Homo sapiens: one gene and its partner. The protein of the gene in region 1 interacts with the protein of each later gene in a biochemical or structural test. Each region holds a gene or a part of one and is shown on either strand. Other genes may lie near its edges. The genes, in order: HOXB1 and PBX1.

Region 1 (7,146 bases):
GCAACCTCCGCCTCCCGGGTTCAAGCGATTCTCCTGCTTCAGCCTCTTGAGTAGCTGGGATTATAGGTGCCTGCCACCACACCCGGCTAATTTTTGTATTTTTTAGTAGAGATGGGGGTTTCACCATGTTGGTCAGGCTGGTCTTGAACTCCCGACCTCAGGTGATCTGCCCTCCTTGGCCTCCCAAAGTGCTGGGATTACAGGCATGAGCCACCTCACTGGCCTAGCCCCAACCTTTGATCTTGGGTTTGGCCTCCCTAGATTTGGGCTGGGGAGAGCAGATAGAGACATTTAAGGTCTAATGAGAGAATTTAGATTGCTCCTGCCAAGCCCCCAGCTGAAGCAGCTTCCTTCACAGAAAGGACCAGAATCTGAGGTTAAACTTCTAATATATCCCCATTCTGGTTAGATAGTTTCCTTGCCTGCATTCTCAGTGTGATAAGGAGTGAAAACTGTCAAAGATAACTTCAGTTCCAAACATGTCTATGTTCTCCTTGCTCTCTTTTATGTACAAGCAGATCATACAAACTAGGACATCAACTTTATTTCATTTTGGTGTTGGGTCCACCCAGACCCTCTCTGGTGAGTTTAATTTGGTCCACCAAAAATCCTATGGGCCATAGGTTATTCCAGTCAGCGAAGCTTCTTTTAGGGAGGAGGAGGAGATTGGGAACCTAGGGAGCAAAGTTGCTTGGTTCTCCCAGTCTTTTCTGCTGGGGCTGGGAGAGCCAGCAGGAATTTGGGCAAGTTTTAATGTCCCTGCTAACACAAGAGAAGGTGGCATGACTCAGGGATGAATTGGGGAGCATAGTGAATTTGGAAAGCTGAGGCAATCACTGCAATTGACAGTATAACTTGAGGCACTTTTTTTTTTTTTTTAAATAGAGACAGGTTCTCTGTCACCCAGGCTAGAGTGCAGTGGTGTGGTCATAGCTCATTGCAGCCTTGAACTCCTGGGCTCAAGCCATCCTCCCTTCTGAGCAGCTGGGACTTCAGGGAGGCACCACCACACCCAGCTAATTTTTGTATTTATTTATTTTTGTAGAGATGTGGTCTCACCATCTTGCCCAGGCTGGTCTCGAAGTCCTGGGCTCAAGTGATCCTCTTGCCTTGGCCTTCCAAAGTGCTGGGACTGCACCCAGCCAACTTAGGGCACTTTTGCCTCAGTCTTTGCTTGCTGTCATGAATAATAGATTGTTGGTGACTTCAGCTGTTATAAAGGGAATGCATTCCTCAATTCCCAGATTTGTGCTGTTTTATTAAACTGATTTGAAATTCACTTCTTCCTTTAGACCTCAAATTGTTCCCTTAATTATGAAGGCAAAGGATGGGGTGAGAAGATTCTCCCCGGGATGAGGAAAAGGTGGAAGGTGAACAAGTCTCAAGTCTCTCAGAAGCAGGGCTGCCAGATCAGATACAGGCCTTGTTCAAATTTGGGGTTAGAAGACAAGCCCTAGATTCCTCCAGACAAGTTATTCTTAGCGTCTGTGGAAGACATCTTAAAATGAAAGGATGAAGCATCTGCAAATCTTCTCCCCGAAAAAGTAAAATAGAAAGAAATAAGCTTGCTCTTACCTCAATAATTTCTTTCTCTTCAATTCCTCTGCAGGTCACCTCCTCCCATCTCAATTTTCCTTTCTCTTGTCTGCCCTCATTCCCTTGGCAAGTGAACATTCTCTCTCACCCCCATTGCATCTATTAAAGAAGTTACCAGCTTGTGCCCCTCCCCCTCAGCTTGAAGCAGGGTCTGAAGCAGAGTACACATGATCGGGAAAAGGAGGCAGGGGTTCTGTGAAATGCTTTGAGCTCTTTCAGAGTTGGGGGTGATGGCCAGGTGTGGCAGCTCAGGCCTGCAATCCTAGCACTTTGGGAGGCCGAAGCAGGCAGATCGTTGAGGCCAGGGGTTCGAGACCAGCCTGGCCAACATGGTGAAACCCTGTCTCTACTAAAAATACAAAAAAAATTAGCCAGGCCCAGTGGTGCCTGACTGTGGTCCCAGCTACTCAGGAGGCTGAGGTGAGAGGATTGCTTGAACCTGGGAGGCAGAGGTTGCAGTGAGCTGAGATCATGCCACCGCACTCCAATCTGGATGACAGAGTAAGACCCTATCTCAAAAAACAAAAACAAAACAAAACCCTCCCCCTCAAAAAAACAGAGTTGGGCTAGGCCCACAATTATTAGAGAAGAGAAAGGCAGTGTGATGCTGGTGGTATAGAGCAGAAAGCAGGAGAGGCAGCTACGGTAAGGCCAAGCAAAACAAGAGGGAATGGGAGACAAAGATGGAGGGGCAAGACACAGACTGCAGGGGACAACTTTGGGGTCCCTTGCAGAGGAAGGAGTATTCGCCCTGCCCTTTTTGGGGTGTGGAAACCTGAGAAGTTTTGAGGGTCCTCCTTAAACCTGTCCCACCTGCTTCCCTTTCCTCTCCTGAGCTCCGTTGTTTACAGAGATCACTCCCTGAACTCTTGCCCTCCTGGACTTGCCCTAGCTTCGGCCCCAGGCCTCCGGCCAGGCAGACACCCTGACAGGTTACAAATGAGCGTGGGTGTTGGATTGCCCCAAGCTCTTGCCCTCAAGTTGTCCGGAGGAGGAGAGTCAATGGGCTCTACCTAAGGGCTTCTCTTCTAGTCCCATCTGGGTTTGGAGTCTGAGAGAGTGAAGAAGACACATCCTGTGTCCCTCCGCAACAGCCACACAGAACAAAAAGGGGCGAGACTCCACTCCTCACTCTGGAGTCTTAGAATTCAGAGCCTCAGGGCCTCCACCCCGATTCTCCCACTCTCTGACCAAACTCCCTTTATCAATCCTAGAAAAATTACTGAAATCTGGAGGAATCTTTAAGATTTAACTGGTATTAAATTTATGCATTTGAGGTTTGGAAATTTTTTTTTTTTGGAAGGAGATGGAGGGTGGTGAAGGAGAGACAGGTAGGAGGGAACCAGGAGAATGCAGGTCTCCACTAGTTTTAAACACTTCAAGAAGAGAATAAAAAATTCCCCTCCTCTTCACCCCGCTGTAAACATCACCTGGCTGTGCTCATTGTGGCTCTCTAGAGAGATATAGGGAGTTATTTAAGTCTGAGTGAGTGAGCCAGCTACAGCTATGGATGGCTAGAGAGAGGATAAATACATCTAGAGAGATGAGAGGTAGGGAACGAATATAAATATGGAGAAAGATGGACGAACAGAGAGATGGATTGAGACAGAGAGAATATAAAGAGAGGCTGAGGGAGAGAAATGGATGTGTGAATGAGGAGAGAACATTTATGCAAAGAGAGAGAGAGGGAAGATGGGGCATTTCTCATCCTTTTCTCCACATTTCTGTAGTCCTGCCTTGCTCCCTGAAATGCCAATTTCCCACCCCTGGCTTCATGAATTCTTCCTCTAGATTCTAGATCCTGCCCCACACCCTTAGGTGTTTTTGCACCACCTTCCCCCACCTCCCCACCACACAGTCATCCATTTGGCCCAAGATAACATACCTCACCCGGCTGTCCTAGCCCACCACCCTAAGACAAATTGGAAGAAAGGAACATGGTTTGGGAGTTCTGGGCAAAGTATGGAAGCTGGATTCCCCACCTCCAGGTCCACAGACTTAGGGGGAAGGTTTCTCTGAGGGGTGGGAAGAGTGAGGGGCAGCTGGCTTGAATTTGTCCAAATCTAATAACCCAGGAGCCTATTGAAGGCCTTGGGGGTTGGGAGGGAAGGAAAGTCTTGAATATTCTCCTAACTTTTTCCCCCTCTCCCTCTGGTCCCTTCTTTCCAAAAGTCTTTGAAGAAAGATGTTTTTGACGCTTCCATGTCGCTCTCAGATGGATGGGCTGCGGGTGATTGAAGTGTCTTTGTCATGCTAATGCTTGGGGGGTGATGGATGGGCGCTGGGGCTGCCAAACTCTGGCCCGCTTAGCCCATTGGCCTGGGAGAGATCACATGTGCCCCCTCACCCCCACTCCCTACCCCCTTCCTAGGGAAGCGCTTGCCCAGGCGAGCGGGTCAGGCCATGGATTCGAGCCCCAGCGCTGTGACATACTGCCGAAAGGTTGTAGGGCAAGAGGGTGTCTCCCCCAAACGGGCCGACCCTCCTGCGGCCTTGACGCATGGACTATAATAGGATGAACTCCTTCTTAGAGTACCCACTCTGTAACCGGGGACCCAGCGCCTACAGCGCCCACAGCGCCCCAACCTCCTTTCCCCCAAGCTCGGCTCAGGCGGTTGACAGCTATGCAAGCGAGGGCCGCTACGGTGGGGGGCTGTCCAGCCCTGCGTTTCAGCAGAACTCCGGCTATCCCGCCCAGCAGCCGCCTTCGACCCTGGGGGTGCCCTTCCCCAGCTCCGCGCCCTCGGGGTATGCTCCTGCCGCCTGCAGCCCCAGCTACGGGCCTTCTCAGTACTACCCTCTGGGTCAATCAGAAGGAGACGGAGGCTATTTTCATCCCTCGAGCTACGGGGCCCAGCTAGGGGGCTTGTCCGATGGCTACGGAGCAGGTGGAGCCGGTCCGGGGCCATATCCTCCGCAGCATCCCCCTTATGGGAACGAGCAGACCGCGAGCTTTGCACCGGCCTATGCTGATCTCCTCTCCGAGGACAAGGAAACACCCTGCCCTTCAGAACCTAACACCCCCACGGCCCGGACCTTCGACTGGATGAAGGTTAAGAGAAACCCACCCAAGACAGGTAGGGCTCAGATGTGGCCACCCCTTCTCCGGGGCCCAAAGCATCTCTGCTTCCCCTGCAGTGACATGTCCTGGGTCTGGGCTGGGTTCTTCTCTTTCAGCGGCTCTGGTAGACACAGGTAAGAGCACAACCTACGTCTCAGGTCAGGTGAGGTCTCCCCACCCAGTATGTAACCGGTCACCCCAGGAGTAAGTTTCCATACACACCCCACTTCCTGATCTGTGCACCCAGCACAGACCCAGGACCTGGTGTGCATGGGGGATGGAAGTATGGGGAAGGCTGCTCCAGACTTGGTGATCACCATGGGGGTACCTGGTGGTCCCTGGGAACTTTGACAACTGTACTTGGGCAGAATGGCAAATGGAGGTCCAGAGCCAGCCCCGGGAGGAGGGAAGCGGAAGGAGAAAGAGGTGAGAGAATTGACCTGGCCTTTCTCCCTGCCCCGCCCCTAGCGAAGGTGTCAGAGCCAGGCCTGGGCTCGCCCAGTGGCCTCCGCACCAACTTCACCACAAGGCAGCTGACAGAACTGGAAAAGGAGTTCCATTTCAACAAGTACCTGAGCCGGGCCCGGAGGGTGGAGATTGCCGCCACCCTGGAGCTCAATGAAACACAGGTCAAGATTTGGTTCCAGAACCGACGAATGAAGCAGAAGAAGCGCGAGCGAGAGGAAGGTCGGGTCCCCCCAGCCCCACCAGGCTGCCCCAAGGAGGCAGCTGGAGATGCCTCAGACCAGTCGACATGCACCTCCCCGGAAGCCTCACCCAGCTCTGTCACCTCCTGAACTGAACCTAGCCACCAATGGGGCTTCCAGGCACTGGAGCGCCCCAGTCCAGCCCTATCCCAGGCTCTCCCCAACCCCAGGCCTGGGCTTCACTGGCCTGGGGATCCTCTCTAGGGCTGAAATGCCAGTTTAGAGCTGCCTGGGGGTGGGAGGGGGGATGGGGAAACATTTTTCTCAGACCTGGGTGGCTGGGGGCCCTACAGGACCAGAGGCCTGGGAGGCATGGAACCTGTCAAATGTAGAGGGAAGGGCTTCTGCCTTTGATCTGGGGATCAGCTCAGTGTCAACATGTGGTGGGGGTGGGGGCCAGCCTCATCCTCCTGGATTCATCCTCCTTTCCCTTCCAACTTGGGTTTATTCGGTTCAGTGCCTTCGAGCTTTGAGGAGTCTCCTCACGCACTCTTATCCTAACTCCCCCTTCTAGGCCTGACACAGAACCTTAAATTTTCTTGTGTGGGAGGTGTTTGGGTGCAGCCATATTATTATCAATGCTTAATCCAGTCACCACAGACCTTACAATAGCACCAGCTGCCTTGTGACAGACCAAAAAGCCCCCCGCCCCCATCTAACCCCATTAGCCCTCTCCTGGCATATTTATATTGCACTAATGCAGCCTTCAGAGGTTGTTTTCTGAGACCTGCCTCCTCACACCAGCGACCTCATCACTATGTCACCAAAGTGTTTTGGAACTTGGTATTCCAGAGACTTCTGGAACGCCGTGCAAGGCCTGCCCCCAGCAAGCCACAACCAGGAAGGTGCAGGCACGCCCCCACTAGCTCCTCCCCTATTTATTGCCTCCTGGAAAACCCAGGACCCTCTTCCCCATCTCCACCCCTACCCCTGGGGGCAGCCCAGGGAGAGCCAGGCACAATGAGGGCTCCCAACAGCTGCAAGGATTTATCTGAACCTTTGAGAAAGAGGAGGAGCCATCTAAGTTTCTGGAAACCTGAGCCCCAAGTGAGCCCGGGTTCTCTCTGTACCTGCAACTACCTCATTTCAATAAAGTCTGTGTTTTCCCTTCTTCCTGCCTGCTTCTGTTTCTCCATTCAGGGGTAGAAGAGGCCTCATACTCCGTGCACCGTGGAGAAGAGGTGAAGAAAGAGTGGCCATTGGCTGGTTGGGCTGGAATGAACTGAGCTTTAAGATCTCAGCTGGATAAAGAGAAGGACTTACTGGGTGTGGCCTAAGCAGGATTGGGTCCCAGGCATTCAGGCTTGACAGTTGTCAGTCCCTTGGTTATTGGGAGAATCCAGAAAAGCATGGAAGAAGTCTGTGGAATGAATGCAATTCCCAGAGATTTTTCTTTTTCTTTTCTTTTTTTCTTTCTTTCTTGCTTTCTTTCTTTCTTTTTCTTTTTCTTTTTTTTTTTTTTTTTTTTTTTTTGAGACAGGGTCTGGCTCTGTCGCTCAGGCTGGAGTGCAGTTTTTTGGTTTGTGTTTTGTTTTTTGGTTTTGTGTTTTGGTTTTTGTTTGTTTGTTTGTTTGAGACAGGGTCTCGCTCTGTTGCTCAGGCTGGAGTACAGTGGCATAATCTCCGTTCACTGCAACCTCTGCCTCTCAGGTTCAAGCGATTCTCCACCTCAGTCTCCAGAGTAGCTGGGACCACAGGCGCACACCACCACTCCCGGCTGATTTTTGTATTTTTGTAGAGACAGGGTTTTGCCATTTCGCCCAGGATGGTCTCCAACTCCCG
Region 2 (3,442 bases), on another chromosome or scaffold:
CTAGAAGGAGCATTTTTGTGACAACTTCATAGTGATTAGAATCAGTGGAGAACTCCATCTTAGTGGCAGGAATATAATGAAACTACCCACGCAAGAACATGGTTGAATCACATTTGCTTGACTTAGGGCAAAGTACGAAAGAGAGACAAAAGGGTTCTCTTGGAAACAAGAAGAGTGACTCCAGATGTGGCCTGAATAATTGCCATGTTAAGTTAATGCAAAAGATCAGAACAGGGCTACATTTGCACAGGCAGTTTCTCTCCGGGCCGTAGTTTTCACTGATGATCACCTTTCACAGCATTTTCCCCAACCAGCATTTCACTTAGTCTTCTCTATACCCAGCACCTCCCCCGGCACCCCCGGCAAGCCCACTATCACTTCCGACTTCCAACGTGGCATCCGTGAGATCTGTCCACATTAGGCGAAGCAGGAGAACACTGAGAGCAGCAGGATGGGTTTGGAAAGAGCATGCCTCTGGAAACACAGCTTCCTGGGAATTCACATGAGGCCAGTCCTACAGAGAGCAAGATGCACCCCAGGATTTCTTCATTTTCTAATAGATGTGGGAGTGCTCCATTTTCCCCGACAGCGAATTTCCCCTGAGAAACGATACTAGACCCTGGGTTTGCCCACCTTGTAACTCTTCCTTATCTCCTCCTTTTCATCCCTAATCCATCCTCCCTCTGGCATGGAATTGACGCCCGTGCAGTACATTTGCCAAGTGGCACCTTCTTTCAATTTATGTTTTATTTTGCTATGGTGGTGATTCTTTATTTGCTGGTTGTCTTTTCTCACACATCTTTCTCTCTGTCTCTCTCTTTCCTGCTCTTTGTTTTTCTGCCCAGAAAAACCTGACTTCGATACCAAAAAAGATGAAACTACAGAAACTCAAATTTAAAAAAAACTTTAAAAGAAACAAAAAAATACTCAACGATTCTTTCAGCTTTATTAACATTTTCCATTGTTTCTTGCGACTTGTGTCTCGTTCTTTGTAGTATTGATGATGAACATTTGATAATGAATGTTCTTGTATATTCAGATAAAGAAAAAAAAAACCAAAAAAGCGGTCTGAATTTAATAGTGTTTATAATAAAAATTTTAAAAATGACCCTCATAGCACGCAAAACAGGATGGGGAATTTCCCCTCTTCTTTCTGTGACAATGCGCATCATTCCTGCATTAGTTTTTAACACCAGACTACCTACATTCATCATTTCCCTCATTTTTCTTTTATTTTCTTGCATTTGTGAATTAGTTCAAGAATGCTAGAAAAGTGTCGAGTTGTGCACATCCATTTCTTGTTTCACAATGTTTAAAAGTGACAGTAATTCATTTTGTAAACTAAAAAAAAAAAAAAAAAGGTTGGAATAGTGAGCATAATAGGTACAACCTAACACATTATTATGTTTATTAACTTTGAGACCCAGAAATAAATTCTTTTCTTTTCTTGATTCTTGCTCTTAAAAATACAAAAAAAAAAATGTTTTGTTTTGTGTTATTTTTGGTTTGTTTATTGGGGGGCTTTTTTTAATTGTCAGGATTATGATCTTGCTGTTTTTCTTCAATATGTATACAAGGTGATGTGAAAAGATGACTTGGGCAGAGGAGTAAGAACAAGTAGGCTTGTTCTTCTACTTTGCTTCAGAATTCAGTTAATGCCAAAAGCGAAGATCAAGCCCATGTTGATGTCTCGTTGCTCACCTGCATTTCCAGAGAGTGTGACACTCATGCAGTCCCTGAGAAAAATAAAATCAGGGACATACTTCTCCTTTTAGCCTTTTAAAAATTCAAAAACGTTTAGTCCAAGGGAACTTTTTATGCTATCAGGAAAGGTTTTTGCTGTTTTTGATTCTGATTATCACAGCCAAGTACTTTGTTTTATTTCTCCCTAATTAATAACTACATTCCATGAGGCCTCTTCCAACCAAAGAGGCCTTTTCTTCCAGGAGAGTCCCGCAGGAGATGCTGGTATGATGGGCACCATTGGTTAAGTAAACTACATGCAGGAAGAAGTCCTTGGGGCCAGTCTGCCAGCTGAGTCCTGGTTTTGGATGAAGAGTTAATGAGATATTGGGCCAGGCTCAATGCTGTAGTTTTAATGCTAAGAGGTTACGTTTACTTCACAGAGTACACCTCTTAGTAACCTCTGACTTAGGCAGCTGCTTAAAGCAAATTGCAAAACTGGCTTGATTTGGAATGTTTTTATTAGAGGAAAAAAGAAAGCCATATTATCTGGAAAAAAATTCATTTTAAATACCATCATTCAACAAATTATGTTCAGAAAGTGGTCAGAACTTAAGCAAGAAAAGTAAAGAAAGAATGCAGAATTGTGGAGCAATGCTTTAGGAAATATTTCTACCTGAACACTTGTACTCTTGAAGTCACAACAAAATAATGATGAGCTTTTCACATCACCTTTATGGTTTCAATCCCTAGCTCAAAGCTTCCTGGAATCTTTTATTTTTTGTAAACTTTTTTTTCTTTTGTTAAAATAAATAAAACATTCAATGTTTTTCTCCTTTTCTCTCTTATTACTTCTTTCCTTTGGCATTTTCAATTTGAAATGCTTTCCTTTGGTTGTTGGTTTTATTCTCCCCCTACCCCTCCCCTTTTCTTATTATTCAGAATATAAACCTGCAAAGCTCTGCTCTGTTTTGGTTTTGAAAGTTTAAGCTTTTCTGCTTCTGTGAGAGCACAGGCTTCTGTCCCTTTTGATTCCAACTGAACTTTTGTGTTCTCTAATGATACTAACACGGTGTAGGTTTTACAGTCTCCTAATTTGTACTGGTAATGCATATTCCAAATAAATAGTTTCTTTTGTTGCAAAAAAAAATACTTGTATTTTGTGCACATTTCTTTTCTTACATGCTGGCAACTTCTCTTTCCCCAAACTAGGCCTGCATTAGTGTAGATTATGGTTTAAACTGTTGCCCTAATCACTGAAAAGTCTACATACTATGGTGGTGGGGCAGAGACCTTATGGACCACCTTCTTCACTCAGGAAATAAGAAGGAAGGAAGGAAGGATCATTTGTGGGTAAACAATAGCTGTATTACAGAGGGACAGAGCACCCCATCTTGTCTGCTTGCTACTGGCAGCCATCCACCAAGCACCAGTTCAGAGAAATGCCAGGAGTATTTTCCATAATAAATTCTAAGTTCCTAAGTCATGGCTGTTTGCCCAGTGATTCTCCTTTTCTTCTCTTTGTCTGCTGTGATCTGGTCATAAGAAAAATTGTGGTTCCCAAGAGATATTTCAGGGGAAGGAATCTAGGTTACAAATAATACCCAGTTGTAGGCTCTCAGGAGTGTGATAGATGTTACTCCCAACAGATGTGCATCTCTACCATCTGTTATGCCTACCATCCCAAAGGAGCATCTCTTCCAATAGTCTGCACTCATATTGAACCCCTGACCTTTGAGGTTTCGAAGTGTTACAGAGT

Evidence for each region.
Region 2: the proteins of HOXB1 (region 1) and PBX1 are reported together in a solved structure, tested with the Homo sapiens proteins (2 studies listed by BioGRID and IntAct, with this or other methods).

Annotation. Positions count from the first base shown.
Region 1 is NC_000017.11:48,527,855-48,535,000, reverse strand, and holds HOXB1 (homeobox protein Hox-B1), read left to right. Parts: upstream 1-3,989; 5' UTR 3,990-4,096; coding exon 4,097-4,673; intron 4,674-5,125; coding exon 5,126-5,454; 3' UTR 5,455-6,475; downstream 6,476-7,146. UniProt on the Homo sapiens protein: Sequence-specific transcription factor which is part of a developmental regulatory system that provides cells with specific positional identities on the anterior-posterior axis. Acts on the anterior body structures.
Region 2 is NC_000001.11:164,848,998-164,852,439, forward strand, and holds the end of PBX1 (pre-B-cell leukemia transcription factor 1), read left to right. Parts: 3' UTR 1-342; coding exon of another isoform or gene 343-405; 3' UTR 406-2,834; downstream 2,835-3,442. UniProt on the Homo sapiens protein: Transcription factor which binds the DNA sequence 5'-TGATTGAT-3' as part of a heterodimer with HOX proteins such as HOXA1, HOXA5, HOXB7 and HOXB8. Binds to the DNA sequence 5'-TGATTGAC-3' in complex with a nuclear factor which is not a class I HOX protein.